Linked DNA regions of Homo sapiens. The protein of the gene in region 1 interacts with the protein of each later gene in a biochemical or structural test. Each region holds a gene or a part of one and is shown on either strand. Other genes may lie near its edges.

Region 1 (7,371 bases):
AGGAGCCAGTGAGATGCCAGATGCCGGTGGGAGAGTCAAGGCCCTCCCAAGAACAAACATGCTTTGCATAGCTCAGCAGGGATCAATCAGGTGCTCTCTGAAATCCACCTCAGTGATGGCTACTGGGTGGAGCCGACGATGAAAGTGCCCTTGCCAGGTTTCTTTTCATGTAGGTTGTCTCCCGCCTCTGAGGGCATGCAGTTGAGTCTCCCAACAGTGGAGGGCAGGAGGGAAATGAACGTGGACAGAAAGCTCCTGTTCAGCAGCACTTTCACAGACACTCATCCCGCCTACACTCCCCGTGAGCAGGTGGCTTGGTCAGCGTTCTGTTTCTAGGAGATGGGACACTGGCTGCTGGGGGGTAGCTGGTGAGGTGTAAGTGATCGTGGCTAGGCCAGTTAGGAGACTCTGACAGTCCAGGAAGAGATGATAGGGGCATGCAGGAAGGTGTTGAAGGTGAAGACAAAAAAGACAGGCAGGTACCCAGATTTAGAGAACTGACCAGGCTGACAGTTATAAGAAGCTGGTGTCAGGGATGATTCCCTGGTTTCTGGGCTGAGGGACGAGGTGGGCAGACCTGTCCTGAGATGGGAGCTAAAGAAGGGGGCCCCTGCTGTAGCTGAGGAGGCTGCCAGGTAGGCCCATCACAGACAGGTGACAGCCTGGCCACGGCCCATTATCACACCTCAGACCAGCTCCATGCTTGATGGGCAGCTCATCTCAAGTTGAAAAGCCACAGAAGCGTATCTCTGGGAAACACTGAGGGTCTGCCTGCCTCTGTAGACCTGGGAGGTCAGCAGATACCACTGAGGCCAAAAAATATGGGTGAGGTTTTAGAGTACATGAAACGGGGATTCATACTGGGGAGGTGCACGAACCGACTCAAGGGCGTCACGTGGACCTATTCCAGGGCTCCTCTTCTGAGCATTTCCAGGCTCTGAGTGGCATTCTAGATTGGGGAGGGCGTGGCTGGGTTAACTGAGTTCCAAGACACAAGGGCCTTAGAGTGACACAAGAAAGTGTCCAGTGTCCCGACCTGTGGGACAGACTGCAGCCCAGAGAGATGCCTCTCTGTCCCGTGTGGCCAGGCCTTCAGTGTCCTGGGGACAGAGCGTGCCCGCCTCCCCTCCACGCCTCAGATGCTACAGCTGCTGCCAGTAGAGCTAAACAGACATAGAGGCATCTCGCCCTCTCTGCCTAGACCAGTTTTGTGTCCCAGGCCATGACCACACGGAGGGCCTGGACATTTGCCTGGGCCTGGCTCCTCACCAGACGGGGCCTAGACAAGCCGCCTCCTTCACGCCATCGTTTTCCCACACAGGTTTATCTGAGGACCGGGGTGAGTCTGGCAGGGTGGAGGCAGAAGAGTTCTGGGACAGTGAGAGAACGTGAGGAGCTGATCTGTATCTTCCCCTTCTCTGTGCCTAGGAGAAAAGCAGCCTCCCAGTCAGACAAGCCAGCCGAGAAGAAGGAAGATGAAAGCCAAATGGTGAGCAAGCAGCCCGCCCCACCCTCAGGCTCCCCACTGAGATGAGCGCATCGCCAGGGAGGCTCTCTGGTCTCAGGCGAGGCCTTTGGGACATGCGTGGGATGGGCGCTTCATCAGGTGATTCACAGGAGGGGCGGAGGGTCTCTGCGGTGCTTGTCCCTGCGCCACCCTGGCCCCAGCAGCAGGCCTGCCCTCACTGAGCACCCCCTACCAGACACTGCTCCACCCTTGGAGCTGCAGCCTGAGGCGCTGGCCGCTGCACCGCAGGGCTACCTCGCCTTCCCAGGAGCCCCGGGGAGCACAGACCAGCCAGGGTCTCGGCGGGACTGGGACTCCAGGAGTACACTGCAGAGGGGCACGTCTGCCAGAAGCCCAGAGAGGTTTTTATTTTCAAATTATTTCTGTTTCTAAAGACTCCTCTTCCAGCAGGAGCTTCAGGTGAGCTGTGGCAAAGGAGCCCTGGACCCCTGGCTCTTGTCCTTACCAGGCAGCCCAGAGCCAGCCTGGCTGCCAGAGCTCCCAACATCTGCTTCCAGTTAGGGCGGCTAATTCTCTTTTCCTCCATGTTAAGCTTTTCCTATAAAAAGACTCCTACTGACAGGGCTAAGTTTAGCCTTAACTACAAATGCCTTGAAGGTTCCACCTCAGTGCAGAATCAGAGAGGAAATAAAACTGCCAGGGACCAGAGCAGGCTTCCTGCCCTGTCCTCCCATCAGTCAGGGTCATGCTGGTGTTACCCTGAGGCTATAGCCCTCCCAGCTGATCCACGCCTCTCAGCCCCGTCCTGGGCACATATGGGTCCCTTTGCCCCACCAGCCAACTCCCATTCAGCCTGCACTTCCCTGCATCACCCTTACACCTTAAAAAACAGCCTCCCGGCCGGCTCAACACTTCACACTTGTAGTCCCAGCACTTTGGGAGGCCGAGGCAGACGGATCACCTGAGGTCAGGAGTTTGAGACCAGCCTGGCCAACATAGTGAAACGTCATCTCTACTAAAAATACAAAATTAGCGGGGCATGGTGGCGCATGCCTGTAATCCCAGCTACTCGGGAGGCTGAGGCAGGAGAATTGCTTGAACCTGGGAGGCGGAGGTTGTAGTGAGCAGAGATCGCACCATTGCACTCCAGCCTGGGCAACAAGAACGAGACTCCGTCTCAAAAACAAAACAAACAACAACAACAAAAAAACAGCCTCCCGACCCCCAGGCCTCACAAAGCTCCTCACTACTTGATCCCAGCCCCGGTCTTCTCCCGAGGCCCTCTGCACAGGCACGACTGCTTGTGGAGACTCGTTGTCTCCTGCCAGATCTTAGGCCCTTGGAGGGCGAGGCCTGGGCTTCTCACACGTCCACCATTCCCATACCTTGCACATGCTGTGGAGTTTAGCCAACTGACTTGCCATGAATTTCTGAAATTGCAGGCCACGGGATAATCACAGACATCAAAATACTGTGGCCTCGCTCCAGCCACAGCCCTGGGGATCTGAAGACATCGCTGGCCTTTCTTAGTCAGGTGCCAGTATGTTGCAGTCCCAGCCCCTGAAAACTAAAACTCTCGCTCCTGGAGCTCTAAGAAGAATGGATTTCAAAGCCCAGGGGCTTCTGGAAGAGGAACATTCTTGAAACCTTCAACCCCAAGGATAGCACTCTCCTCCTCAGACCCCCATCTTTTCTGTCTTGTTTTTCACAGGCCCCTGGCTACAGCTGGTTCTTGTTTGCCATGGTCCCTTCTCATACCCAGGACTAGCGTCTAAAGAGAGCAGGGCCTTCAGAAGATCCACACACCACACAAGTGCAGTGGGAGGGAGAGAGGCTGATGGCCGGCACTCGTTTTCTTGTTCATGCTTCCTGGTATTTCCCCAATTCTCTGCAGTGAACATGCACTAAGTTTATCATTAACAGAGAAGAAAGAAGGCTTATTTGAAAGACGAAAAGAGCCCCAAATGTGGAGTCCGGTGACTTGGGCAGGCCCTCTGCCATGGCAGAGCTGGCCCTGGGCCAATGGAGTTACTGCTCCGAGGACCAGTTCCACCACCTGAAAACCTGCACCCAGGCATGGCCGCCTCACAGACTGTGCGACTGCCAGAGGTGGGGTGCAAGTCTCTGTGCCCAGGGCCTGGGAGTGCTGCGGCCACCTCTTTCCCAGCCTAGAGTCAAAGCATAACTTCCCTTTTAAGCAGGGAGGGTTTTAAAAAAATAACATACAAGAAAAGATGATAATTTTTTAGTGACTCTGATGTCACCCTGTATCGCTTTCATCGTGGCCCCCACATGTGTGTGTTGATTGACATAATCTGTTATTCAGCTGTCTTTAAAATGAGGAGGCCTGAGAACCTCATCCCAGCACCTGCAGGCTGGCACCTGCTTTTGCCTCTCGACCAGAGCCTCCCGGGACTTACTCGTTCACCACACAGATACGCAGGGCGTTCCTGATTCTCGTGTGGGGATGTAGTGAGCAGAGGAGACAAAGCAAAGACCTCTGCCCACGGTGACAAGGGAGAGGTTCTTTGCTTCAGATCAGAATGACACATCAGGTTGGGTGGCCGCCTGTCAACAGCTCAAATGCTGTGCATTCTGCTTCATCAAGTGGAAGGATTACTCTTATTACTTAATCAGTGGCATGTTCCTGATGCTGAAAAACCATCCTGACGCACATGCCATGCATGATGAGTGTTAGGTGTCCCCACTGCTGGATGAACACGTCCACTGTTCGAGCACTGCCACAGACCTATTACACGGGCAGGTGTGTGTGCTGCACAGGGGGAGCAGGCCAGTCCACGGGGTGCTCATGAGAAGTCAGTGAGATGACATACGGGAGGCATCCGGCCCAAGGGGGGCTCAGGGCTTGCGGGTGTTGAGGGCCAGAAGGAAGTTCTATATCACCCTGCTGAGAGCCTGTAGCTCCCTGTAGCCTTCCCCTTCCCCAGCTTTGTCCACTGGCTCGATTCTCTCCCCACTGAGATTTTGCGTTTTCACTTTTAAATATTTAATGTTTTGCTAATTATAAAAGTCATATGTGTTCATTGGGAACATTTGGAAAACTGAGGTTTTATGAAGTGTCCAATGATGTCCTGCCCTGGCCCCAGGTGGCCTTCCTAAACAGACTCCCTTCTTCTCCATTTTAGGAAGATCCTAGTACCTCCCCCTCTCCGGGGACCCGAGCAGCCAGCCAGCCACCTAACTCCTCAGGTGAGAGGGCGCCCCCCGCTGACCCCAGTGAGGCATGAGGTCTCAGAGTGGGAGGGGGGACCCTTCGGACAGGACCCTCTGATCCAGCCTCTTTAGTATGCCTGAGCAGAGGGCCAGGCCACAGGGAAGCCCATTTCTTATGGGTCCCCCAGAGCCTCCCCCAGGAGCCCATGTGGGAGCACAGGAAGTGCTAGAGCAGAGCCACTGTGATGGGTCCCCAGGGTGACCTGCGTGTCACCTTCCCACCAGGACCCTGAGTCCCGCACGAGAGAAGGCACTTGCCTGACGGCACATATTCAGGGTGGGAGTTTGTGTCCAGGGCTCCTGAGGCAGGCTGGGGCCAGTGCTCTTAAGAGGTATCAGTGTCAGGACTCATGTCTCCCAGTGAAACGCCAGCTGATGACCGACATTACAGAGATGGCAGTAGATCTCGCTCCACCCAAAACGCAGCCCCTTCCCTGGCTCAGGTTTCTCTCTGTCTAAGCTGTGGCAGATGGGAGGTAGTTAGGAGAGTATGATGAGGCTTCGCAGGGGAGGAAGACCCCAGGGTTGGTTGTTCATTCGACAAACATCTTTGCAGCACCTGCTCTGTGCCAGGCCTGTGCTCATGAGCACAGCGAGGAGAGACAGGGGCATCAGGCTGCCCTAGCTGGGCAGAGGAGGCTCTTGCCAGCTGTTCGCGTGTGTCTCTGGGGCATGCTCAGGTTGGGTGTCGCCTCCCTGTGAAACTGCACGCCATGTCCTCTCCTCCTAAGATTTTTGCCTGGTGTCTTGATTTGCCAGGATGCATAGGTTCCTGGCTGATGAACGTGATCAATACCCCTGCCCTGTTTGCTTCTTCCAACAGCCCAGTGAGTGGGCTACGTGGTTCCCATCTGTGTGCAAAGTGGTTTGCTCAAGGCCACACACCTGGGACATGTCTGTAGCCCCAGGTCTAGTGCCTGCAGGCCCAGCGCCTGTCCCAGAAGGTGGCTTTGAGGAAAACTGCCTCAATCCCACCGTTGGTCCGCAGGGTGCCAAGGCTTAGCTCTGGGCCAGGCAGCTGCCCCACTACCCCCTAGAGATTTTGTCTTCTGCCTCTGCTTGTCCTGCACAGTCAACGAATTCAAGTTAATGCAACAAATCTTTTGGAGTAGAACAAAATATAATCCAATACCACTTAAAAAAGACAAGCCAGCCAGAATGGGACAGAGCCAGGCGCAGCATGGGAGGCAGACTAAGGAGCCCCTCAGTAGCAGGTGCCGGGCCGAGGGGCCTGGCCGCCACACCACACGTGGGAGCAAGGCTGTGCTGGGATGTCCGGGGAGGTCGTGCTTGCTCGCCCTGTGGCTCTAGTCACTGGGTCCCTTACCAGCAGGCTCACATTCCAGAGAGACCTGGCACAGTGAAGGGCTCAGAACCAGATCACAGGTCAGGGTCAACCTGACCTAGGCCATGGGGGACTGAGAACAAGGTGCCAGGTTTTGGCTTAACTCAATCAGACCTTCCTGCCACGGGGCTCTGCACCCTTGGCATGGGTGAGGGCTTCCTGTTGGGGTGTTTAGGGGATTGGGGTGGCTACTGAGTCCCTTCACCTGTGAGGTTCTTCATCCATGAAATGAACTGACAGAGGCTGGCCGGAAGCCCTGGGAGCGGAGCAACTCGGTGGAGAAGCCTGTGTCCTCGATTCTGTCCAGGTGAGCTGCCCCAGGAAGGCCTGAGCAGCGAGGCTGGTGGGGCAGAGGCGGGCGCTGGCGCCGATTCACATGTCTGTTTCATTCCATTGCCGTAGAACCCCGTCTGTGGCAAAGAGCCCCGAAGCTAAGAGCCCCCTTCAGTCGCAGCCTCACTCTAGGTACCGAACAACCCTCCTGCTCACATGTCCCCCAGGGTTTGGGGCTCCTCTGTCCCCCGTCCCGTGACTAACACCCTTGCACGCTGTCTCACGTCCTGGCATTTAACAACTTGCTCTGCGAAGGTGGTCTGTTCTTTCAGACCCAGGACCTCGGGGTCCTGTCAGTCAGCTGCTCCGTCTTTTCCCTCTGAGAGAGAGACCAAGGGCAAGGAGGGCAGTGACCTGTCCACAGAGGTAGTGCAGGGGGGGGCCAACATGGAGTCCCAGCTCTGGACTCACTACGTGTGACAGTGGGCAAGTTAGGGGACCTCTCCAAGCCTCTGTTTTCCCCCCACAAAGTGAGGTCTGTTAACCCCTGCTGCACAGGGTGGTGGTGGGGACAGCTGTGAGCAACAGCTGGACATGGGGTGTGGTCACTAGCCAGGGCTGCACCCTACAGTTCAACCAGTCCTAGCACTGGCGCTGAGCCCTACCCCTTTCCTCCAGCCCAGAGTCCTTCCTCTGCGGCCGGCACACAGAATCAGTTTCCCCACAGACATACTGACCATATTTCCCAAGCCAAAAGCTGGCATGACAACATGATAGAATATTTGGAACTGAGATTGCCCAAAAAGGCAGAGGCAGCCAGCCACATAGTATCTGGAGGTACATGTGGCCTGAATTGGAAGGCCTCTAGAACCTGCGTCAAGAATGTCTCCATCGCCACCACAAATTGAAGGGAAACCACCCTTATCACAGAGCAGGAGGCATTGAAACTGGCCTTGCAGAGCTGAACAGGTGGTGAGAGCAGAGCAGTGCAGGTGGACAGAGATGAGGAAGTCTTAGCAGTCAGCTGGGGTTTGTCCAAGGCTTGTGGTCA
Region 2 (8,222 bases), on another chromosome or scaffold:
ACATGCCAAGCATGCTCCTGCACCAGGGTTTGGAACATGCTCATCCCACTGCCTCCTGCTCACTTCCTCATTTCCTTCCAGTCTCCCACCATGAGTTAGGCCAGGTGTGGTGGCCCATGCCTGTAATCCCAGCACTTTGGGAGGCCAAGGTGGGTGGATCGCTTGAGGCCAGGAGTTCCAGACCAGCCTGAGCGACATAGTGAAACCCCGCGTCTACTAAAAATACAAACATTGGCCCAGCGTGGTGATATAAGCCTGCAGTCCCAGCTTACTCGGGAGGCTGAGATGGGAGGATCACTTGAGCCCAGGAGGTTGAGGCTACAGTGAGCTGTGATCACGCCACTGCACTCCAGCCTGGGTGACAGAGCAAGACTCTGTCTCCAAAAAAAAAAAAGTTATCTCAGTAGAGGCTTTATTTGACCCCTCTATATAAAAAGTAAATCCCCTACCACACATATACATACACACACACACACTCTTACCCTTTCCTGACTCTAAAGTTCTCCACAGCATTATGATCCTTTGACCTATTCATTCACATATTTGTCTGTTTCCACCCAATTAGAATGTGTCTGTTCCACGAGGGCTTAGTCTGTTTTGTTCAAACTGGTTCCCCCTCCCAGCACCCACAGCATACACAAGTGCTACCACGACCCCGGCACACACAGGTGCCCCCCACAAGCACATACAGGTGTTCCTCCTCCCGGCACACACAGGTGCCCACCCTCTCAGCACACACAGGTGCTCAGTGAGAATGTGTTCAGTGAATAAACAAGTAAGGACCAAAAGCCATGCCTTCAGACTCCTCACACAATGCCCTATGTGCCTGCCCTCAAGTGCTGGTTCAATTCTTGGTGGTCACGTCCTTCAGTCAGAAGAAAAGATCTAGAAATCTAAAAATGAAATAATACATTTTAGCTACTCTATTTCACCTCCCACAGCTGCCTTTCATAGCAGGGAGGATAAAGAACACAACTAAAAGTTAACATCTTGGTTTAACGGCTCTTTCATTAAAGAGCTCATTTTACTGCTGCTACTTAAGAACTTTCTGCCTTTCCAGGCAAGAAACTAATAACTCATAATTAACTCCTGACCAACAAGACTAAGTTAACCAATCTTGAAAATTAGCTTATTCAGATGTTTTCCAGAGTGTGTATAATAAGAAACTATTTCATATTAATTGAATTGGTGTTGCAAAACTTTCCAGAAGTATTCTGAATGAATTCTAAGGATGCTTTGGCAGATGATCAAGCACATTCGAGAATTTCACAGGAGATAATCTCGTAATAATACCATGTTGTAGGTAATCCATTAGCTGACTCTAGAAACAACAGAATACTAAACCTAGAAAATAAGCCAAAAGCCAGGCTCGGTGGCTCACGCCTGTAATCCCAGCATTTTGGGAGGCTGAGGCAGGCGGATCACCTGAAGTCAGGAGCCAGAAAAGAGGAAGAGATTGATGGAACGTTGAGGGAAATGCCCTGCCTTGGGGCTGCAAGACAAATAAATAACTGGTGCATATTTAAACAGATCGTTTATGAAGATTATTATTATCTCAGCCAAAAAATACACAATATGAACACTGTATAAAAGTCAATTTATCACATTCTCTGAGTCAGACTGTTCTTGGCTTATTGCAAAAGTTATCAGTGCACTGCACGAACCCCGTTCCCAAGCCAGACTTGAGCTACTCTCCACCCTCCAGAAATCACTCCATTGCAGCCTCTGAATTTAAGTGAATTTAACACGTAAGTATCTGCAATTTGAAAAGTCACTTTTCACTTATTTTAGCCCAACCCTGATAAAGTGACTGAGAGAGCTGAGAATAATGAATTTGAAGATTCGCTATGCCCCATTATGCAGAATTCTAAAAATCTTTTCTTCTTAAAACATTTTTATTATCACAATGAGTGACGTGTTTCAAGTTAACATGTAAAATCGGAGAACTCGAGACAGAAGAGGACCTTAGAGATCCTTTAATTCAATATTTTAGAGAAAAATGGGTAGAGGATAAACTAACTTGCTGATCACCGTGTCGGTATTCATGCTGTGAAAGTAATAAACGGAACACCAACTGAGAAATGATCCCCGAATGCTGTCAGGTACTTCAGTCTTGCAAAAACTACTACAGATTAATCAGTCCTGCTCATCCGTTTAACTCAGCTATGTAAACAAGCAGAGCTAGACTATGCTCAAACCCTAAATATTAGCGTTACCACTCGCCTGCCACATACTACAGCATCATTAGTTATGAAAGTGTTTTAATACAAGATCTTCATGTTTGTGTAAAAGAATTACTATAAAACAGACCTAAAGGCAAGTTACCCATATTCCAGAATAAGTGAGTGCCAAAAATATTCACCCTTCATTACAGTACAAATGAGACAGGCAGTAATAATGAGACTGCATTTAAAGTTGTTTTTGCACTTAAAATTTAAGTCTATACTCCTCATCTGCATCAGGCCCCGGCCTGTTTGGTAACCTCAATATTCCTTTACTAAAGTGACAGCATCACCACCCTTTGAGACACAGATGCCCGGTGGACATCTGTGCCTGCAGCAGGAACGCGGGTGTCCGCGGGTTTCTGCAAAACTCCACCATGACCAAAGCTGCATCTCCAGCTGAACAGGTCTAACCCTTGCTTCGGAAGCCATCTGTCCCTGTCTCCCTGACACAGAATCACGGCCTCCTATGCCGTAAGGCTCCGAACATCTGTAAAATCAGCGGGGTGGACTAACGCAGAATTCTTTTTCCAGCTCTCAAAATTCCGCCTCATTGCCGGAGTGGCAGGGCGGTGCAGAGAAAGAGCCCTGGGCTTGACACCGCTTGAAAAGCCCACGTTCGCATTGCTCTGACCACCCCTCCAACTCCCGGGGACTACAGGAGTGCGAGGGGGCCCGCTGCGCCCCACTGTCCCTCGCGGGCTCCTGGCCCACAGAGCGCAGCACAGCGCCGCCGCTGGGAAAGGGCCGATACAGGCCTAGCCGCGCGGCGCGGCGCGGCGCGTCTCTCGGGGTGCGGGTCCCCTCCGCCCGCGGCCCCGGACCGCGACCCCCGCTCCCCGCCCGGCCCCCGCCCGGCTCCGGCCTGGCCCGGCCTCTGACCTGCTTTCCGCCGCCCGGCGGTCCCTCGGCGCGGCAGGCAGTTGCAGCCGCCAGTCCCCAGCCCGCTGTCACCTCCGCCCCTGGAAGCGGCGGGCGGGTCGATCCCGTGTGAGTCAGCGCGCCGCCCCGCCTCCCGCTCAGGCTTCCGCCTCTGCCGGCGCGGTCCGCGCGGCCCCGGGGGCGCCAAGCTCCGCTGCCCGCGCGCCCACCTCTCCGGCGCCCGCCCCGCGCTCGCGCCCCCTGGCGGCCGGCCCGGCCCTGCTCGCCTCGCGACGTCAGAGGGGCGTCGCTCCCAGAACGGCCACCGGGGAAACTGAGGCACGGGGGCCCGCCCCCGCCGCAGCGCGCCGACACGGCTCGTCGGGCCTCGGCCTCACGCAGTCCTACGTGCAGCCCCGGCTGCGGACAAGTTCCTCCACTCTTGCTGTTCCCCCACTCCCGACACCACCCTCCAACCTAGAAAAAAGTCAAAATTCCATTCAGAGAAGTCCAAGTCGATTCCTGTCTGCGTGTGATGCTGTCCTCTTTGCTACCCCGAGGCAGTTTCCCTTATTATGCCACACAATACTCGCTGGGGTTCGCCTCTATCTGTCCCATTTTTTTCTGAGGAAAGTCTCTCAGGACATCTTTGAGAATTTGAGAGCAAGAAATGACAGAAGCAAGAACTGGGCAGGGCTGTCAGAACTCCTCCTCCGACTCAGTTTCTGAATCCCCGCAGTATTCCCGTTGTTTGTTTAAAGACCACGAAGTTACACAGCTTGGCTATGTTGCTGGAATTGCTGCGCCTCACGTTTCTGGAATCTACCTAGAGGATTCTGAAGAAGGCGGCGAGTCTATGACTGTGCATGCACAACAAAAATAAATATTTCACAAATCTCATCCCATGCTGTATATGTTTCTCCTTCCCTTTGCTTTTTAAAAACTTGTGGTTAAATATATATCACATGAAATTTACCATTTTAATCCTTTTTAAGTGTACAGTTCAGTGGCATTAAGTACATTGACATTGTTCTGCAACCATCACCACCATCCAGCTCCAGAACTTTTTCATCTTCCCAAACTGAAACTGTACCCATTAAACACTAACTCCTCATTCTCCAGCCCCTGGTAACCATCATTCTACTTTCTGTCTCTATGATTACTCTGGATACCTCATATAAGTGGGATCATACAATATTGTCCTTTTGTGAGTGGCTTCTTTCACCTAGCATAATGTCTTCAAGGCTCACCCATGTTGTAGCATGCGTTAGAATATCCTTCCTTTTGAAGGCTGAATAATACTCAATTGTACGTATATAACATCTTTGGTTTATCCCATCTTTCTGTGGACATTTGGGTTGTTTGTACCTTTAGGCTATGGTGAATAATGCTGCAATGAACATGGGTGTACAAATATCTGAGTCCCTACTTTCAATTCTTTTGGGTATATATCCAGAAGAATTGCTGGATCATGTGGTAATTCTGTGTTTAATTTTTTGAGAAGCCACCATACTGTTTTTTTTTCCTTTGCTTTTTGAAGCATGTTAACACTGTAAAGAGAACATTTTGTAGTAAAATATCAACGTTCGGAGAGTCTTTAAAATTCTTAGCAATGCTTCATTTGCCTGTAAAACTGTGACTTTTCGGCGGATCACGAGGTCAAGAGAACGAGACCATCCTGGTCAACATGGTGAAACCCTGTCTCTACTAAAAATAAAAAATTAGCTGGTCATGGTGGTGGGTGCCTGTAGTCCCAGCTACTCGGGAGGCTGAGGCAGGAGAATCGCTTGAACCCGGGAGGTAGAGGTTGCAGTGAGCTGAGATCGCGCCACTGCACTCCAGCGTGGTGACACAGCGAGACTCCGTCTCAAATAAATAAATAAATAAATAAATAAATAAATATTTTAAAACAAGTGACTTTTCTTTCCTCAAGAAAGTAATTAACATTGCAAATCTATTGTCTTTATTTTTGGATAATGTTATTAGCCAAAATAAAAATAACTTATTATTCAGTTTCCTACAATTTTGTTTTCTGTGGATGTAGCTTTCTAAAGTTGTTTGGAGTCAAGTATGCCATATGAAATTCAGATGAAAAATCAAGCATTTCGTTTTATTTATTTTTTTCGCCACGTTGGTCAGGCTGGGCTTGAACTCCTGACCTCAGGTGATCCACCCTCCTCGGCCTCCCAAAGTACTGGGATTACAGGCATGAACCACTGCGCCCAGCCTGGGGATCGGAGTTTTTTGTTTGTTTGTTTTTTTGAGACGGAGTCTCGCTCCGTCTCCCAGGCTTGAGTGCAGCGGCGTGATCTCGGCTCATTGCAAGCTCCGCCTTCTGGGTTCCCGCCATTCTCCTGCCTCAGCCTCCCGAGTAGCTGGTACTGCAGGCGCCCGCCACCACGCCTGGCTAATTTTTTTTTTGTATTTTTGTAGTAGAAACGGACTATCACCGTGTTAGCCAGGATTGTCTCCATCTCCTGACCTTGTGGAGTTTTTAAAGATAATTTGGCTGGTGGGGTCTTGAGAAGTGGGGAGTGCTGATTGGTCAGGTTGGAGATGGAAACATAGGGGGTCAAAATGAGGTTTTCTTGCTGTTTTCTGCTCCTGGGTGCAATGCAGAACTGGTTGAGCCAGATTACCGGTCTGGATGGTGTCAGCAGATCCATCAACTGCAGGGTCTGCAAAATATCTCAAATACTGATCTTAGGTTTTGAAATAGTGATGTTATTCCAGGAGCAATTTGGGAGGTTCAGGCTCTTGGAGTCAGAGGCTGCATGACCCCTAAACTGTAATTTTTTTTTTTTTTTTTTTTTTTGAGACGGAGTCTTAGTCTACCGCCCAGGCTGGAGTGCAGGGGTGCAATCTCAGCTCACTGCAACCTCCACCTCCCGAGTTGAAGCGATTCTCGTGCCTCAGCCTCCCTAGTAGCTGAAATTACAAGCATGCACCACCACGTCCAGCTAATTTTTGTATTTTTAGTAGAGATGAGGTTTCACATTGTTGGCCAGGCTGGTCTCAAACTCCTGGCCTCAAGTGATCCATCCACCTCAGTCTCCCAAAGTTCTGGGATTACAGGTGTGAGCCACCACTCCCGGCCTTAAACTGTAATTTCTAATCTTGTAGCTAATTTGTTAGTCCTGCAAAGGCAGACTGGTCCCTAGGCAAGAAGGGGGTCTTTTTGGCAAAGGGCTATTATCAATTTTGTTTCAGAGTCATGAACTGAATTCTTTCCCAAAGTTAGTTCAGCCTATGCCCAGGAATGAACGAGGACAACTTAAAGGTTAGAAGCAAGATGGGGTCAGTTAGGTCTGCTTTCTTTCACTTCATAAGTTCCTCAGTTAAAATTTTGCAAAGGTGGTTTTATACTTTTCATTTATCAATGAATTCTTACTGTACATTTGTGATGTAACAGGCATTGTGCTAGGTGTTTGGCATTCAGGCTGACCAACACAGACAAGATCCTTGCCTTCATGGAGCTCACATTCTAGAGTAGGGTAACAGACAATAAAGAAATAAACAAATGATAATCCAGACAATCATGGGGTGTAGTTGAGTGTTATGAAGGAAACAAACCAACTGATGCGATAGATTAGATCACAGAGAATTAAAGCCTAGTGCCCTAGGCATTTGTTGTATGTAATGAGTTAACTTCTCTCCTATGCAATGTTGGGGCTTAGAAACCAATACCCTAAAATAGGGTGCTTTGTACATGTTGAGCTGAAAAAGCAGTCTCAAGGTCTCTCTCAACCTCCTCCCACCTGCCCCTCTTCACTGTCTCTCCCAAAGCATAGTATTCTCTGAAGTTTCCTTATCTGTCCAAAGTCCTGACCTACCAAAGAAAAACAATTATCTCTGATCTCTTTCCTGAGTTTTAATTAACTGAACCCACATTGCAAGAAAGAAGACCAAAGTCTGTCAATAAACCTGGACAGACTTTTGTCACAAACCACTGTCTGGTCTGCAGGCCCAACAGACTTTGTCCCAGACCATTGGAAGTTCCTCAAGTTCATTGAATTCTCCCTAGTAATCATTTATTGCCCTCAATAGAATTCCTCTTCTTCACCCTCCCATAACCTGTTTTGCCAGCATCCAAGTCACCATTTTTTCTGTAGCCTCAAGATGGTACATAAGCTTCTGCACCCCATTGGGGGGTTGGTCTTCCGTGTCACATAAAACTATTGTCAAACAGATGCATATGCCAATTAATCTGCCTTTTGTGACCTGATTTTTCAGCAAAACTTCAGAGGGCGAAGAGGAAGTTCACCTGACCCCAACAGCAACCAGAACAGTTCAAGTCATACTCAGTCCTTGAAAGAACTAAGAGGACAATTCACTCCACACAGCTTCTATGTCATGTGGTTTAGATAAGGAATCTAGGCTGATAAAGGCCAAAGTGAGGGATGGGAACCTTCTCTGAATATAGAGATAGTTGGGGAAATCCCCTCTGGGGATGTAACATTTACCTGAAACTTGAATAATGAGAAAGAATCAAGCCGGACATGGTGGCTCAAGCCTGTAGTCCCACGATCTGCAGTGAGCCATGATGGCACCACTGCACTCCAGCCTGTGTGACAGAGTGAAACCCCATCTCAAAAAAAGAGAGAAAGAATCAGCCATGTAAAGAGCTCTTCAGGCAGGAGAAACTGCAGGTGCAAAATCTTGAAGTAGAAAGCCATCTAGTACGTTTCGGAAACACAAAATAAGCCATGTGAACAAAGGAGGCAGTTTTATGAGATCAGATTAGAAAACAAACAGGGCCAGGTGCAGTGTCACGCATCTGTAATCCCAGCTACTTTGGAGGGTGAGGTGAGAGGCTCACTTGAGCCCAGAAGTTCAAGATTGCAGCACATTATGATTGTGCCTGTGAATAGCCACTGCACTCCAGCCTGGGCAACATAGCAAGACCCTGTCTCTTAATAATAATAATAATAACTATCTTTTTTTTTCTTTTTTTTTTTTTGAGATGCAGTCTCGCTCTGTCGCCCAGGCCGGAGTGCAGTAGTGCGTGCAATCTTGGTTCACTGCAACCTCTGCCTCCCAGGTTCAACTGATTTTCCTGCCTCAGCCTCCCAAGTAGCTGGGACTACAGGCATGCGCCACCACAACCGGTTAATTTTTGTATTTTTAGTAGAGATGGGG
Region 3 (7,663 bases), on another chromosome or scaffold:
ACAAACTAAATGTAATTTCCTACTTTTCAAATCTAAGTCTCAGACACAATCTTTGAAAATATTTCAGTGAATGGACAACTTACTCCAAAATCCTCATCTAATTATCTTTTCCCCAGCAAAGTTCCTAACTGAAAAATGAACGGATGTTAATTTTTCCTTCTTTATGCTGAGTAGTGAAATGGTTAGAATACAAGCAAGAAAAAAAAGAAAAGAGATCCAAAGGTCAAACACACACCAAAAGGGACTAAAATAACCAAGTGATTCGAACAATTTAACAATCTGAAACACCACAGGATTATGATTTGACATGTCAAGCAGTTTAAGAGACTTTTAAGTTTAATAAAGCTGAAAGTGAGTTCATACGAATATTCTATCGTAGAAACAAAATCAGGATCTAAGAGGCCAGGTCATAGATGCTGTAGAGTAGGTAAAACTAAAGCAGTGCTTCTCCATAGTGCTGGGCAGTTCACAAAAACCACCTTAATAGCCATTATGGACTAACTTTTATTCAAAATGTTAAAAGAAACTGCTTAATAAGTTGTAATGTGGCATGCAACTTTAACCAAAAGAATGCCTTACTCACCTCTACCAGCTCTGCCGACAGCCACATTGTATGTTGGCTCCCCACCTTGACTCTTTGTCCGGATGTCCATTGTGCAGTCACCATCGACGTATAGACTATCTCTGATCACTGAGCATTTCTTCGCGCCAAGAGTCAAACCGTTGGTAAAGAAACCTTCCCGGTCTTTTCCTACAATCATATCTATTTCTATTGGCTGCCCCCCACCAAAAAGAAAAAAAAAAAACACACACACATTAAGTTGTAGTTAACTCCTTTTAGGGCTTGATGTAACAGGAAGGGCTGTAGCTAGGCTTATGCTACCACTGCCAGATAGCCACATTTCACTAATGTAAAACCAAGATTCAGTCTTTTCTAAATAATTATTTAATCCTATATAATCACATATTTTACATGAGTTGATTTGACTTCAGTTAATGATGTCGTCTCTTAACCAAGACCAGTCTATACAAAGAAACTGTAAAGAGTTGACAGTTGACACTAGACAAAGTGCAAACTTAAAGAGTTATTTATAAACTGTATTAAGTCAGCTGGTGCCTGAAAGTGTTCACGTAATGGTAAAAATTCAGCTATCAACTCTGAACAAAGCTGGTCTATCATATTCAGTCCCATTACAGTAAATCATGTTTCATCAAATTTAAAGTTGCTTCAAAGTCTCCCAAAATAAAGCCTGTTCTTTGATGTGTTCACTTCTCTGCTTAGAGTAACTAGAAATATACGTGATGAGATGGACTTCAACCCCTGGACATCAGTGCTTTTCCAAATTCATATTTCCCTCCTATTTTTCTAGCCACGACTCCCGTTTCTTTCCAACTTCCCTTCCCCTCCCATCTCAGTAATCAGTTTTCTTTCTGGGCAAACGCAAAGTGGATTCTGTCTACAGCACTGCGGTAGGCAATAGTAAAACAGAAAAAATGGAGGGAGATTGGGAAAGAAACTGAGGTAGCCACCAGAACCGGAAAGGAGAAAACGTGCATTCTAACATTCCATGAATAAGAAGGAAGGCGTCGCCCCCATCAGAACTGCAGAGTCATAGCAGGCCCCAGCCATTTCCAAGCACACTCCCGCAATCTTCCTAGTCAGACAGCGGGAACTCACACACAAAGACAAGAGGACTGCAGGAAAAAAGTTGATGACCAGATGCCAATTCCCTACAAGAATTGTAGTCCACTGCGGGTATACGAGACCTTAAAGTACTACTATCAAGGACTGAGTTCTAAAGTTAGACTTTAAACCATGTTAAGTGGTAAAAGAATAATTAGCACCCTTAATAGGGGACCTGAATTTTGGTGCTTAATGGAAAGGGAGCGTGGTGCTAAGAAATAAAGAGAATGGTCTCGTATTTAGTACAATTATCATAATTTTAGAAACAGCCTTGGGCAGAAACAGGCAAAACAATAAGCTGGAGGTTTTGTGGCAAATATTCTCCAAACATATTGCAACCAACTCAAAACCATCAAGTCTCAAGAAAATCAGGCAATGTGAAGCATAAAACTGCATTAGTTCCTTTACTGCCACCACTAAAGAGGGAGGGACTTAGAGAAGTGAAGTGTGCTCCTGGTCTTCGCAGATAATTGAAAGCCCCCGAAAAGCACCCCTTTTTTGAGCTATGTTGCATAACTGGGGATAACCGTATATCGATGAATCTCCATATGAGAAGAGAAATCAATGGCAGTTCGCCATCTTGGAGAATTTAAAAAAAAAAAAAAAACAACCTATAGAGCTAGAGCTGAAGTCGAGATTCACGAATCCACCTACGCGGTCGGCGTACATCTCTCGCAAGCCCCAGAGGCCTGGACATCGGTAAACCTACGCAAAGTCGCTTCGAGAATCCCGGGGGCCGGGCCGGGGCCGCCGCCTCCCACAGCCGGAGGCGCGGGAGGCGCGCTGTCCGCGGAGCAAGAGCCGGCCAGAGAGCCTAGGGACCTCCACCCGGGGCCCGCGCGCCCCAGCCCGGATCCCCGACCCCCGCTTCCACCCCAGAACGTGCATAGCAAACCTCAGGGCTTCAAGAGAACCTAGGGGAACCGCACTAGGAGGAAAAAAGGAACCCCTCCCCTTGCCCTGGCCGGTGCGTGCCCCCTCCCCCAACCCGGGCACCTGGACCGACGCTGGGAACGCCGGGGGCGCCCGGCCAGGGCCAGCAAGGAGTCCGGCCGCCGCCCCCAGCCTGTCAGCGCAGCCCCGGGTGAGGGGGCGTCCCCGGGCCTCGGCCTCCCCGCCCGCCCGGCAGCCGCATCCTCGGCGCCCGCTGCCTAGCACACCTGCGGGCTCGGCCCTCAGTGTTCCAGCCCCGCGCTGCGGTGCCCCCGCGGCCGGCCACCCCGCTCCGGTGCAGGGACCAGGGTACCGGCCGCCACTGGTCCTCACCGTAATGCTCTGAAAGACGCCCCCGGCCGTGGCTGCCCAGACGTATTTGGCGTCGCAGTAGCCGACAATGGCGGCCTCCTGGCAGCAGCCATCGCACATCAGGTTATCCACGTAGCTCTGCCAACCGGCCATCTTCGAGCCCTTCGCACTGCAGCGCGGACGGCGAGGAGCAGCAGGCGCAGCGGCGGCGGCGGCGGTAGCGGGCGGCGGCGGCGCGGGGGGAGGCGGGGCGGGGGCGGGGAGGAGGCGGCTCTGCGCAGGCACCGACCGCCCCCCTCCCCGAGGAGCTGCGGCGGGAGGACGCGGGTTCAGCGATGAGGGACGAACCTCAGAGCGCGCTCGGCCGCCCGGCCGCCCGCAGCCGCGGGGCTGACAAACCAGCGGCGGGAGGCTGCGAAGCGGCTGTGCCTGTGGCGGCTGCTCCTTACCGCAGCGCCCTCCGTTTTCCGCGGACACGGCTGGGCGTGCGCGCGCGCGTGCGTGCGATCCTTCCGCGGCGCCCGGGCACGGAGGGTCCCGGGAAGGGCGGGGGGAGACTGAGGCGGGGGCGCGGAGGGATACCGCCCCGGGACAATCACGGCCGCCACGTGCGGGAGGCGCCGGCCGGGAGCGGTGGCGGGCCGAGCTTCGGACCTCGGGCCGGCGGAGAGGGTGGACCCCGCGTCGCTCTCGGCACCCCAGGAACAGCGGCGGCACGGACGCCTTGGAGCCCCGCGGCCGGGCCGCGATGTGCTTTTCTCCTGTGTTCGCTGCCCGGGATGCGGAATCTTGAGCCTCGGTGTCGGGTTACAGAGTTGTCCTGGTGACGGGATGCGGAGCGTTTCCTCCTTTTTGTTGTGGGGGCGGCTGGTGGCAGGGGCAGCTGGTGGCAGGGTTGCCCACGCTAATCTCCGAGTCTCTAAGGGCACCGTCTTTCCTGGATCCCTCTTGCGCCTCGTCCATAAAGGCAGACCCGCGGGCGCGCGCCGGCAACCTGAAATCAGAGCAGGCGTCCGTGGCGCTCAGGAACCTTGCTGAGCTTCGCCGATCTTTCATTGTTGCTTCATTTGGGTACCAAGGGCCTCTCATTCTGTGGATTCTTTGCCTGGAGGAGCCCCCTTAATGTTGCTAATCACGTGTGGTTAAATTGCTCGTAAATTCCGAACAAAACAAATAGCGACCTGTGTTACACTGTTTCTTGGTAACTGGGAAAGTTACTGGTGGCTTGAAGTATACGCAGAAAATACAAAGATTAAAAACTAGGGAAGAGTTCACTGAATGAACACCGTAACATTTCTGCTCTGCAGGGTAAAATAATTTCGGGACCCAGGTCTGGGAAAGATTTGTATTAACAAGGTAAACGGTGGGTAGAGTGCCTGAGAAGCTATTCGTATCGTCTTTGGTAGCCTCTGGGCACTAGGACTAGACATGGAATTAGGGGTCCCCCAACAATGACTTCAATTTTAGGTTAATAGAAACCATCTGCCACTTAAGGGAAAGAAAGCACCAAAATGTAGATAAGTTGATGTTCACCCTTAAAGTTATCGTGTGAGGTCATGATTTGTAGGAGGATTAAGGAATGTATCTCTGGAAAGGGCAAGAACGTTGCTTTTAAAAGTCTAATTGGTTCTGAAGTTTTATATTTTTTCTGCTGATTGCTTTAAAATGTTCAGCTACTAGAGAGAAAAAAAGTACAGTAAAAGAAACCCCCAAGTCAGAGACCTATCAGACTGAGAATATGTATTTTCTCATGTTCTAAAGATACAGAATACCTGTGTGGTGTAAAATGTGAACCAAAAATTGTTTCATTTTTGTAAGTGTGCCTCCCACCTGATTTAATTACACTTAATTGTTCTTGTTTATGACTCTGCCTTTTATGGTGATGTTGATCATTTTAGTCCTTCGATCATAGCACTGTATCATCTTAAAAGTTAATAATAGATTACTTGTAACACAGGCTCACTATGTGAGAATTCATCAAGCTGTATGTACATTTATTGTGCTCTTCATTGTATGTATAATTCAATAAATTGAAACAGTAAACGAAAAGGTAATTATAGAAAAAATACAGTGATAACTTGAAGTATGTTGAATTTTTATTAATTTACTCTGAAGGTTTTAAGATATAATTTCTAGACGTTACTATCTTATTGTTATAGCACAGAGTTGGAAATAACTACATTCTTTTCCTATTCTTTTATTGTTGGCTTTAAACAGTGAAAGAATTTGACCAACAATATTTTCTAATTCAAATCTCAAAAGATTCTAAAACACATTTCTTGGGTAAAATATTCACAAAAATTTAGAATTCTTGTCATTCTTCTATATTTTTCAAAATATAATTCATTTTAAATTACTGCTTACTTTTCCAACATGATGTTATTTTTCTAGAATTGCAAACAGTAAAATTTAAACAACTATGAAAAAAATTCTGTATAATAGATTAAATTTTACAGTTTCAATTTTTAGGTTATATATTCAAAGAGAGTCCATGTGCTGTCTTGGTTTTCAGTACTGTAATAAAGTAACCTGTGCTTTTTTGTTTGTTTGTTTATTGAGATGAGACTCCGTCACCAGGGCTGGAGTGCAGTGGCATGATCTCGGCTCACTGCAACCTCCGCTTCCTGGGTTCAAGCGATTCTCCTGCCTCAGCCTCCCAAAAGTAGCTGGGATTACAGACACCCGCCACTACGCCCAGCTAATTTTTTGTATTTTTTGTAGAGACGGGGTTTCACCATGTTGGCCAGGCTGGTCTCAAACTCCTGACCTCGTTATTCGCCTGCCTCGGCCTCCCAAAGTGCTGGGATTACAGGCATGAGCCACCATGCCCGGCCACCTGTGCTTGTTTTCTTTAGAACCAGCTTCCTTGCATGCTGCTTTATTTTCCATTTGTGTACAGTGATCCCTTCCTATTTCATCTAAGTGTTGCTTATACGTTTCAGAAAGTATAAATAGAGGTGGAATACTGAGCTTTAGTAATAACAATATTGGTTCACTTAAGTCCAAAGGAGTATCAGTGTGAGAAAAAGAATTGCCAATTTGTATCTTCCTCTACTTTTCTGAGAGTAAGTAATCCCTAGGATAATTGTAATATCTGGGCAGAAGTTTAGAAAAGTTGTGGCTGTGTTGTTGATACAAATAGCCAGAATAATGTAGCCATTAACAATCAGTAGCATATTTAAGTTTGGAGTGCATTATTATGCATTCTTTCCAGAATTATTTTATTCTTATTGAGTAAAGCAGAAACTGTGTAGTAAGCCACGTTCTTTAATGTGTAAGTCAAGTGGTGTCTGAACCACTTGAGTCCATGTAAAAATCATTTGAAATTTTAGCAAAACACAAACAAGAAATTATCTTTAAAATGTACACAACCTGATAATCATTGGGAGCAGGATCTAAAACTATACACAGTAATTACCCCCAAATTTAGTAAAACCATAATTAACCATCAGTTATTTAAAAATTTCACCGCATAGTTCATTTCTGAAAAAAGTATATGAATTATAAAATCAATATCACAGCAATAAAGTTTAGAAAATGGAGAAAAATCCTTAATCCCACAAGCTAATACAAATATCTTTTGAATGTATTCACTATGTATGATTTTTACAGTAAAGAACAAGGAGAACTTATAATTCTGCATTTGGCCATTTTACCCTGAAATTCTATGAATTTTTGCTTTTTATATTTTGAGGCTATTAGGAAAATGGAAATTTAAATTGTTATATTTTTCCTTTCTGATGAATTTATTCTTTATTATTTAGTAGTTGCCCTCTTGATCACCAATACTGCTTTTTGTCTTAAAATTTTTGTCAAATATTAAGGTAACATCCCAGCTCTCTTTTTATTGGTGTTTACCTTATATATCTTTTCGCTCCCCACCTCTCTTTCAACCTTTCTCTGTCCTTTTTATTTTGTGTCTCATAAACTTCACGCAGCTGGATTTTGTTTTTTTATCCAATATGGCAGTATAACCTTTAATTGGCAAGTTTATTCCATTTACATTCATTGTAATTATTGACATACATTTGGACTTGTTTGAACTAATTTTATTAGTCTCTTTTTTTTTCTATGCTTTTTTCTTCCTTGCCTTTAAAAAAAATGTCGGGCATGTGTGTTTTATTCTTTTTTTTTTTTCAAATTTATGCTACCAATTTTTCTTAGTGTTACCCTTAAATTTTTGCCTTGCATATTTAATACAATAAAGTTTTAAGTTAAATATCTTAAACACTACCCCTAGACAATCCAAAAACCTTAGAATGTTTTAAGTCTGGACACCTCTCTCCAGACTCTTACACAGATGTTTATGTATGTGTGTATATATATGTACTTACATGTTTGTATTTTATTTACTTACTATTCCTTTTCATATCTCAGATCATTCTATGATCATTTTTCTTTCTAAAGTACATCTTTTAGAAGTTCCTTTAATAGCAGTCTGTTGGTGAGAAACTATGTTTATCTGAAAATGTATTTATATCACTTTCATCCTCTGACAATGGGTTGGATCTACAATGCAAAATGGACACTTTGAAGATGTTATTCCATTTCATTTTGGTTTTTGTCACTGCTGTTGTATCATATGGATGATTTGTCTCTTTTCCTCTGGCTACTTTGGAACCTTTTTGTGTTTGCTCTTCTACAGTTTCACTATGATGTGTCTACATTTGGGTTTCTTTTATTCTACTTAGGAAAATAGATTTATATTTATCATCACTTCTGTAAAATTCTCAA
Region 4 (7,745 bases), on another chromosome or scaffold:
TGATTAATCTTCCATTCTTTAGACTTGTCCTATTCATTATCTACCCCCATTCCTAGCAATAAAATAAACATCTACAACTTTTTGCCCAAGTGGGGTTTCTGTAATTTAAATAGTTTTTGAAATGTTCAGAAACATTGAGTACACCAGAACACACAGAGGGGAACAATAGACAATGGTACCTACTTGAGGGTAGAGGGTGGGAGGAGGGTGAGGTTCAAAAAGGTACCAGTTGTGTACTATGCTCACTACCTGGCTGATGAAATCATTTGTAAACCAAACCCCAGCAACATGCAATTTAATCATGTAACAAACCTGCAGATGTACTCCCAAACCTATAATAAAAGTCAAGGGAAAAAGTTCTCCAATATCGACAGAAAGAAAAATCTTCTGCTTGTACTTACTAAGCCTCTTCCTTTGCTAATTTCCTTGTAACATCTGAAACAGAGATAGATATCTTTGGAGGCATTTGGAAAACTCTTATTACTCCCTCTCTGTGAGATTTGTCCTACCTATAAGTTTGGGCTTTAGTCTATGTGTTGTCCTTTGTGTCTCTCAACTGGCACCAGCTTCAGCTAATTGAATCAGAAGTTTAAGCTTATCCAAGCTGGGCTATTTAAAGTCTTTTTGTTAGAGGGGTTGAAATCCCAAACTGGGTATTTTGCTTGAACTAGGGTGATGTCAATTAACGAGCTGAGACTGCCTTTATTGGTTGCCCATGTGTGCAGGAAAACAGAGTCTTCAAAGAGAAAGAACTAAAGCTGATGGAGGCCAAGCAGCAAGATGAGAGACCACATAACCCCAGTGAAGGAGTAGATTCCTTGTTCCAGATGTTGGCAAGTGCCTGGTCTAGTCGCAGATGCATCTGGCCCTTGAGTTTTGCAACAAGCCTCTGTATCCTTAAAATAAAATGCCATCTTTTTAAAAGTAAACTAGCTCGAGGGTTACTATTACTTGTGATATGGTTTGTATATTTGTCCCCACCCAAATCTCATGTTGAATTGTAATCCGTAATGCTGGAGGTAGGGCCCAATGGGAGGTGTTTGGATCATGAGTGGCTTGGGCCATCCCTTTGGCAATAAATGAGCATTCTCTCTGAGTTCACAGGGGAGCTGGTCATTTAAAATTGTGTGGCACACCTCATCCTCCCCCACCAACACATTCTGTCTCTCTTGCTCCTGCTTTTACCATGTGAAGTGCTTTCTCCCACTTTGCCTTCTGCCATGATTGTAAGCTTCCTGAGGCCTCCCCAGAAGCCAATGCAGAAGGTATGCTTCCTGTACAGCCTGTAGAACTGTGAGCTAATTAAACCTCTTTTCTTTATAAATTACCCAGTCTCAGGTATTTCTTTATAGTAGTGCAAGAACGGCCTAATATAACTTGCAATCAAGAGTTTTAACTAAGACACTTATTCATCTTCCAAGACTAAGCCAAGGTTACTCTTTTCTAAAGATTTTACAAATCCCAATACCACCTTCTCCCTGACTCTCACGTGTGCTTCCCTCTACCTGTAACATTTCATTACTCTTACACACCTGCTACTCCCATACTAATCTGTAAACTGCTTAAGAACAAAGGGAATGTCTTATGTATTTTTACATCTCTCCAGTGATGAAGGGTACATAAAAGTTTAACACATTTCCCTCATCGGATATTGTAATTTGATAGCATAGAAACTGAATTTAACCTGAATAAATATTTTGTTTGGCCTATACAGAGAACTTCAGTCTCTCTCTCTCTCTCTCCTCTGTCTCTGTCTCTGTCTGTCTCTCTCTCTCTGTGTGTGCCTGCACACATGTGTAAAATCTAGTATTTTCATTTACTTCTCTAAAGATAAAGATCTTAAGACCATTCCTTAGTATTATCCAGTATAGTATATTGATTTCCTCTCTACTTGATTGAAACAGCAGAGTTGGGCATTTATTTGGCTGATGTGTCCATAAGTTTTGTGGAAAAGTCAAGTCCAACATTGACTAAAGCACTCTGGTAGAAACAAAGGGAGATAAAATTATAAAGTAATATCTTTCCCCACAACTGCACCAAAAATGCACTTTCCAAAGTCACCAATGATCTCCTTTTTGTTAAATCCGAAGGGCATTTGACCCTTTTCTACAATTTGACATTGTTAACTAATTTCTTCTTCAATTTCCTTTCTTGCTTTTAGGGATTTGACTCCTAATTTTTTTCTTACCCTTAATCTAGCCCTTATCTCTTTTATGTGTTTCTCTTGCTCAGCCTTGCTCACTTGGTGTCTTTGATATTCTTCTCTTTTATTTTACTGTCTCCGAGGCTCATCTCACTTCTTGGCCTTTAATTATTTATTTATGTAGGATGTGAACTCCTAAATCAGCATTCAAGATGTATATTTGGATACTCATTTCAATGTCTCAGTCTCAAACTCAATATATTAAAAGTTGTATCCTTTATGTCCACCACCAGCCCCAAAGAATGCACAACTGAACAAAACCCTGACCATCATCCTATATTTTCTCTCTTTCTGAGCTATCCATAGAGGTGATCAAGATAGAAATGTGTGCCATCTTCTATTCATTCCACTGTCATCAACTACATGTACTCATCAAACCATGCCAGTTCTACCTCCTTAATAACTGTAGCTTAACACCTGAATAACTGAACAAAAACTTACAATTTAACTCTCTTAACACTTATCTACCTCAATTTTATTTTTATAATTTATACATAATCTATAATTATTTTTATATAATTGGCACAGTGATAATTCCAGATAAAACTCACTGAATTTCTATTTCCATCCTTGCCAATGATACACACACACAATGTAATGCTGAGAGGGTTGGGAAGGAAGAATGGGAGAAAGGCAGAAGTTGACAGTTAAAAAAAAAAAGTTTCCAGATGGTTTTCTTAGTGTCATCTCTGCAACCTCATCAAATAAGGGTCCAAAATTTATGTTACAACATTTGTTTGATGCCTTATTTAAATTGCTTTACTGGACATTTTCCATCTGTTAAGCTCTCTGAAAGAAACAAAATTGCCTTGTCATAGCTAGACCTCATGATCCTATACACTTACAACGGGCAGACTTTGCAGGGGCCCACACCTTTCAAGGTGGTTTGGGAAAATGACACAGAAAAGTTTTACATCAGCTGAAAAGAAAAATGCATAACTCATTTTGGTAATTTCAGTTTTAATTCTTAATAGGATAAAGGAAACATGCACATTATAAATCAATGCTCTGTGTTAACAAATAATCAAGTAAGCAGAGTTGCAAGTATTGGCTAAAATGAATTTTGGATATTTTTAGCTACCAAATTTCTCGAGGCAAGGCAGACATACATCTGGACCTGAATATCTGCATTATTAGGGAATTTTTGTTTGTTTGTTTTATATTGTTTTGTTATTTTTAAAAGTAGGTGCCAAATTAGGTCACCTGCTGTCTGGGCAATGTTATTTTTTGCCATAACCACAAATTGAAGAAAATTGACTGCTCTTTTTCCTTAGTCAACATGCTGTGCTTCCAGCCCCAAACATCTTTGAGAAGTTGTTTAGATTCATGAGCAATGCCTCTGTCCCCAACAGGCTAAGACATTAGGCAGGTCCCTGCACCTCTGGAGTCCTCAGTTCCCTGCAAAGTGAGGAAGCTAGACTAAGTAATCGTTAGGCTCCCTTCCAGACCGACCAATCTGATGGTATTAGATGCAATTGCTCCTGAATTAGGGCATGAAATGAATTCAGCTTTGGTGCACCAATGTGATGACTCTGCTTCATCAAAGCCTGAGCACGCGATAGGCCTAGCACCATCTCACACAGAGACAAAGGGCAACCCTCTGCTTCCAAAGGAATGACACAACCTGTTTCTGAAGTGATTCACATCATCTTTACTTTTGAACAACCCAATGCTCAGAAAACAATCTAAGAATCTTCGCTGACTTTAGGGATGTAAGATACGGTTTCTTGACAGTATTTGGGATTGTGGAAAAAAGCAATTGAGGAAAGGGCATCTCCACAACGCAATATTGAATTTAGTGCCCAAGGTCCATCACAGGAATCCCTAACGATCCCTACAATCTCTCTCTCTCTCTTTTTTTTCTCTCTTTACCCTGAAAATAAACTGAGAAGTTAGTATTGGGATAACTATTCCCCTTGACCCAAATAAAAAGTCCTGGGCAAACACAGGTACAAATTGCCAAATGGAAAAAGTTCTTCTCCATCTTCAGCTAGAGGGAGGCTGGGGATCCCAGCTCTTTAGAAGCCGGCCCGTGGACGCCCAGAGAATCCCTTCGGAGACCAGGTCAGGGTCACTGAGCTTGCCCAGCAGGGCGCCGCCTCGGACGCCGCCCCGCCTCTCACCTTGCCAGCGCCGCGCTCGGGCCGCGAAGGTGCGTGCGGCGCTCGGTGATTGGCGGCGGCCCGGAGCTGCCCGGCTGCCATTGGCTGCCCGGCCCCCTTTGTTCCCGGGTCCGGGCCGCAGGCCCGCTGCGGCGGACTGGGCGGCGGAAGTTCGACGGCGCCGGGCGAGTGGCTGTTGAGCGGCGCCGCGGGAGTTCCGCAGGTTTCCCGTGTTCGCAGCGGAGCCGGAGGCCAGCTGAACCCGGCCGTGGGATCCCGGATAGGAGGAGGAGGGGACCCATAGGACGCGTTAACATGGACCTGGAAAACAAAGTGAAGAAGGTAGGGGGGCGCTCGTGGCGGGCGGCGGCTGCTTCACCTGCGCGGGTCGCGCGGCGCGCGGCGGCCGGAGGTGCCGAGGTGGGTGGGGCTCGCGGGCCCCCCGGTGTGAGCCCGGCTCTGGGTCTGCGGTGCCCCGGGCCCAGGGACCTGGCCCCCTGGGTAGAGGAGGTGCTCGGCGGCCCCGCCAGCTCCCCACACTCGGGAGCGACAGAATTGGAAGCGCGAGCGAGGGCGGGCGCGGGACTCTTCTCTCCAGTCTCACGGAATCCCAGTGGTTGTAGGTGTTGGAAACTTTACTTAAGATGTTTCAGCTCTGCCTGTGCCTCCTCAAAAGGAAAGGACGAGCTTAGGGCGAGTGCGGGCGAGACCGTGACACTTCCTGGCTCAGGAAGTTGAATTTCATTAAGCCTTTGTGGTTTGGGGCTCTGCTGTGCTTTGACAGCTCTGATCTCCTCCCTTCCGGCTGGGCTGTCTGGGGCGCTCTAAAATGAGTGTTGATTTAATGCACTGCCTTCGCACCCGTGCTGGTGATAACTTCTAATGTGATTTTTTTTTCGGTCATTCATTACTTGTCTACCGACCGAGGCAGTGCCTCCCTCTTAGGGAATTATCTGTCAAAGAGCGCATTCTCCTTGTTTGGCAGGTAGTCCCAAAGGGCGGTTGTCACCAGCGTCTCAGCGCAGGGAGACATTTTCAGCTTGGCTGCTGCCTCGCAGGCACTGGAACCGACGGCCCTACCTGAGCCACTCCCGGGTTATGCGGAGCCTGGTGTCGCCTGGGAGAAAAGGGTGGGGACCAGACTATGACTCAGAAGGAATGCTGATGTCACATTCGAGTGAATTGCCCTGTGCGAAAGTTCTCCTCGTTCCAGGGGATTTGCTCATGTTTTACTTTGTGGTAAATTTAAGCTAGCTGTCCCTTATCAAATAGAGAAGTTTTGCAGAGAGAGGAAGGGAAAAATACAGAAAACAGTTTTTGTTTTTCTCATACTCATGGTTCCTAATATTTTATCTTCTAAACACAAAGTTTTTGACTTGAGCATTAATTCTATTTTATGCCCAGAACTGGATTTTTGAAAATGGATACAAAATATTGTGTTAGGACTGCAGAGTTTTCGGTTAGGAAGCTATTGACCAATAAAAACTCGAAATGAGAAAACAGTTTTTTTCATTCCTTGCGACTAAAATTCTCAGGCACTCAAAAAGGTATCCAAGAACAGAAAAACATAAATTGTTAATGGTAGCGTGATTGCATTCTATTCTCTTCCCATTTGGTTTCTTTCTTTTTTTCTTTTAAATAACTGTAATATTTTTGGTTAATCTTGCTTGTCATGGGGGAAAAGCGGGGAAAGCATTTTGCCCGCTTAGCTTTCTGTTGATGAATACTACTCTCATTTAGTTTTCAAGTAGGTAAGAGCTACTTAATTTAGTACTTGTCTAAAACTTGGGGGGTCTTGTCCTTGCTTTTAAGTATTTATTTGAAGACAACTTTGCAAAAGTAAACATATTTTGGGCTGCCGAGGATGAACAGGTGAAGCACAGGATTTTTAGGGTAATGACACTATTCTGTATGATACTATAAAATGGCTGATACATGTAATTATACATTAATCAAAATCCATAGAATGTAGAACACCAAGAGTAAACCCTAATGTAAACTATGTATGTTGGGGATAATGATGTGTCAATGTGTTTCATCACTTGTAACAAATGTACTGCACTGATACGGGTTGTTGGTAGTCCGGGAGGCTGCTGGAGACAGGAAGGCATGGGGGAGGTACATGGGAACTTCGAATTTTCTGCTCAATTTTGCTGTGAAGCTAAAAAATGCTTTAAAAATAAAGTCTGTTTAATAGGGGGAGAAAAATCAAAGACATTTTTGAAACTTTTTGAGACAAGGAGTAATTCTGAGGGAAGAAGTTCAAACTTAAAAATTGTATATGCTTGCAAAGGAAAAATCCAGACGTTGTTTATAAACAATTTCCTTAGAGTTTGAAAATGTGGATTATGATAAATAATGCCCTTGACATATGGTGTAATTTTCCTCGTTTATCCCCCACTTTACTTTTAAAAGTTATATTTTCAACCAAGAATCTTAACTTTCTCTAATCCTCCTCTTCTCCGCCTCTACCACCCCAGAAAGAATTCCATAAATTAAAGGTTTTAGAGAGAATCCCATGATATAACAAATCCCTGTTTCACTACGTTGTCTTCACTGATGATTCTTAGAATCCTCAACTGGTAAATTGGAAGCTATTAAAAAACCGCAGAGATGTCCCGTATGACTCCAATTTGTGAGTCCCTTAATAGGCTTGATAGTCTAACAAAAAGTTTCCCAGTACAAAATTTGGAAATCTCAGGAATGTATTTCACAATCTTAGCCATACTCTCAAAAAGAAATTTATGTTCCTTTTAGCAATTGTTTTCTAACACGTCCAAAGAAGGAAATATTACAAGACTATCTGATTTACCAGCAGAGTCCTCACCCTATTTTGGTACCTAGTTTTCAAGTCTCCTTTCTTTTTGACTCAGTTATTCAAGAAAATTTATAGTTTGAATGTACCTTGAGAAAAGGAAGATTAAAAGTTGGAACAAAGATACAACCATTTAAATACAACTAATATGACTTCTGTTTTAAGATGTATGACATTTTTTCCTTCTAAAACTTTTACATTGTTGATTTCATGAGGAATTTCTTCCAGACAGATGAAAAGCATCATTGTTCCACATTAACATTTCATGTAAAAAGAATTAAGGAGGACTGTCTTTATTAAACAGTGATTGAGATAGATGATACTATTATAAAATTCTTGGTTTGTAAAAGGAAAGCTCGTCCACATCAGTTGTACAAATTGGGATTAATTACCAGTTAAAACCCACCATCACAAAGACAAGGGGTTTTTATAATTAGATTTTGCTATATTTTGTTTTGTTTGAAGAAAGCGAGCTGTTGCTAGGATGTGGGAGCTAGTTTGGTTATACAAAGTTTTTGTTTTAATAATACTTTAGAACAGAATTGATTCTATGTCCTTGCCCTGTCTTCTGAGTTACACATCTAGACCTCTTTCTTATTTTTTAAGTCTCATCTTAATTGGCTTT

The links.
Region 2: the proteins of EVL (region 1) and DNMBP form a complex in vitro, tested with the Homo sapiens proteins (one study listed by BioGRID).
Region 3: the proteins of EVL (region 1) and PFN2 form a complex in vitro, tested with the Homo sapiens proteins (one study listed by BioGRID).
Region 4: the proteins of EVL (region 1) and TES form a complex in vitro, tested with the Homo sapiens proteins (one study listed by BioGRID).

Annotation. Positions count from the first base shown.
Region 1 is NC_000014.9:100,131,291-100,138,661, forward strand, and holds part of EVL (ena/VASP-like protein), read left to right. Parts: exon of another isoform or gene 1-1,428; coding exon 1,429-1,489; intron 1,490-1,756; coding exon of another isoform or gene 1,757-1,869; intron 1,870-2,910; coding exon of another isoform or gene 2,911-2,998; exon of another isoform or gene 2,999-4,608; intron 4,609-4,614; coding exon 4,615-4,678; intron 4,679-6,287; coding exon 6,288-6,354; intron 6,355-6,449; coding exon 6,450-6,512; exon of another isoform or gene 6,513-7,371. UniProt on the Homo sapiens protein: Ena/VASP proteins are actin-associated proteins involved in a range of processes dependent on cytoskeleton remodeling and cell polarity such as axon guidance and lamellipodial and filopodial dynamics in migrating cells.
Region 2 is NC_000010.11:100,006,734-100,014,955, forward strand, and holds the start of DNMBP (dynamin-binding protein), read right to left. Parts: upstream 3,215-8,222; 5' UTR 3,105-3,214; intron 2,851-3,104; exon of another isoform or gene 1-2,850. UniProt on the Homo sapiens protein: Plays a critical role as a guanine nucleotide exchange factor (GEF) for CDC42 in several intracellular processes associated with the actin and microtubule cytoskeleton.
Region 3 is NC_000003.12:149,967,775-149,975,437, forward strand, and holds the start of PFN2 (profilin-2), read right to left. Parts: upstream 3,122-7,663; 5' UTR 3,083-3,121; coding exon 2,951-3,082; intron 777-2,950; coding exon 584-776; intron 1-583. UniProt on the Homo sapiens protein: Binds to actin and affects the structure of the cytoskeleton. At high concentrations, profilin prevents the polymerization of actin, whereas it enhances it at low concentrations. By binding to PIP2, it inhibits the formation of IP3 and DG.
Region 4 is NC_000007.14:116,206,088-116,213,832, forward strand, and holds the start of TES (testin), read left to right. Parts: upstream 1-4,451; 5' UTR 4,452-4,620; coding exon 4,621-4,647; intron 4,648-7,745. UniProt on the Homo sapiens protein: Scaffold protein that may play a role in cell adhesion, cell spreading and in the reorganization of the actin cytoskeleton. Plays a role in the regulation of cell proliferation. May act as a tumor suppressor. Inhibits tumor cell growth.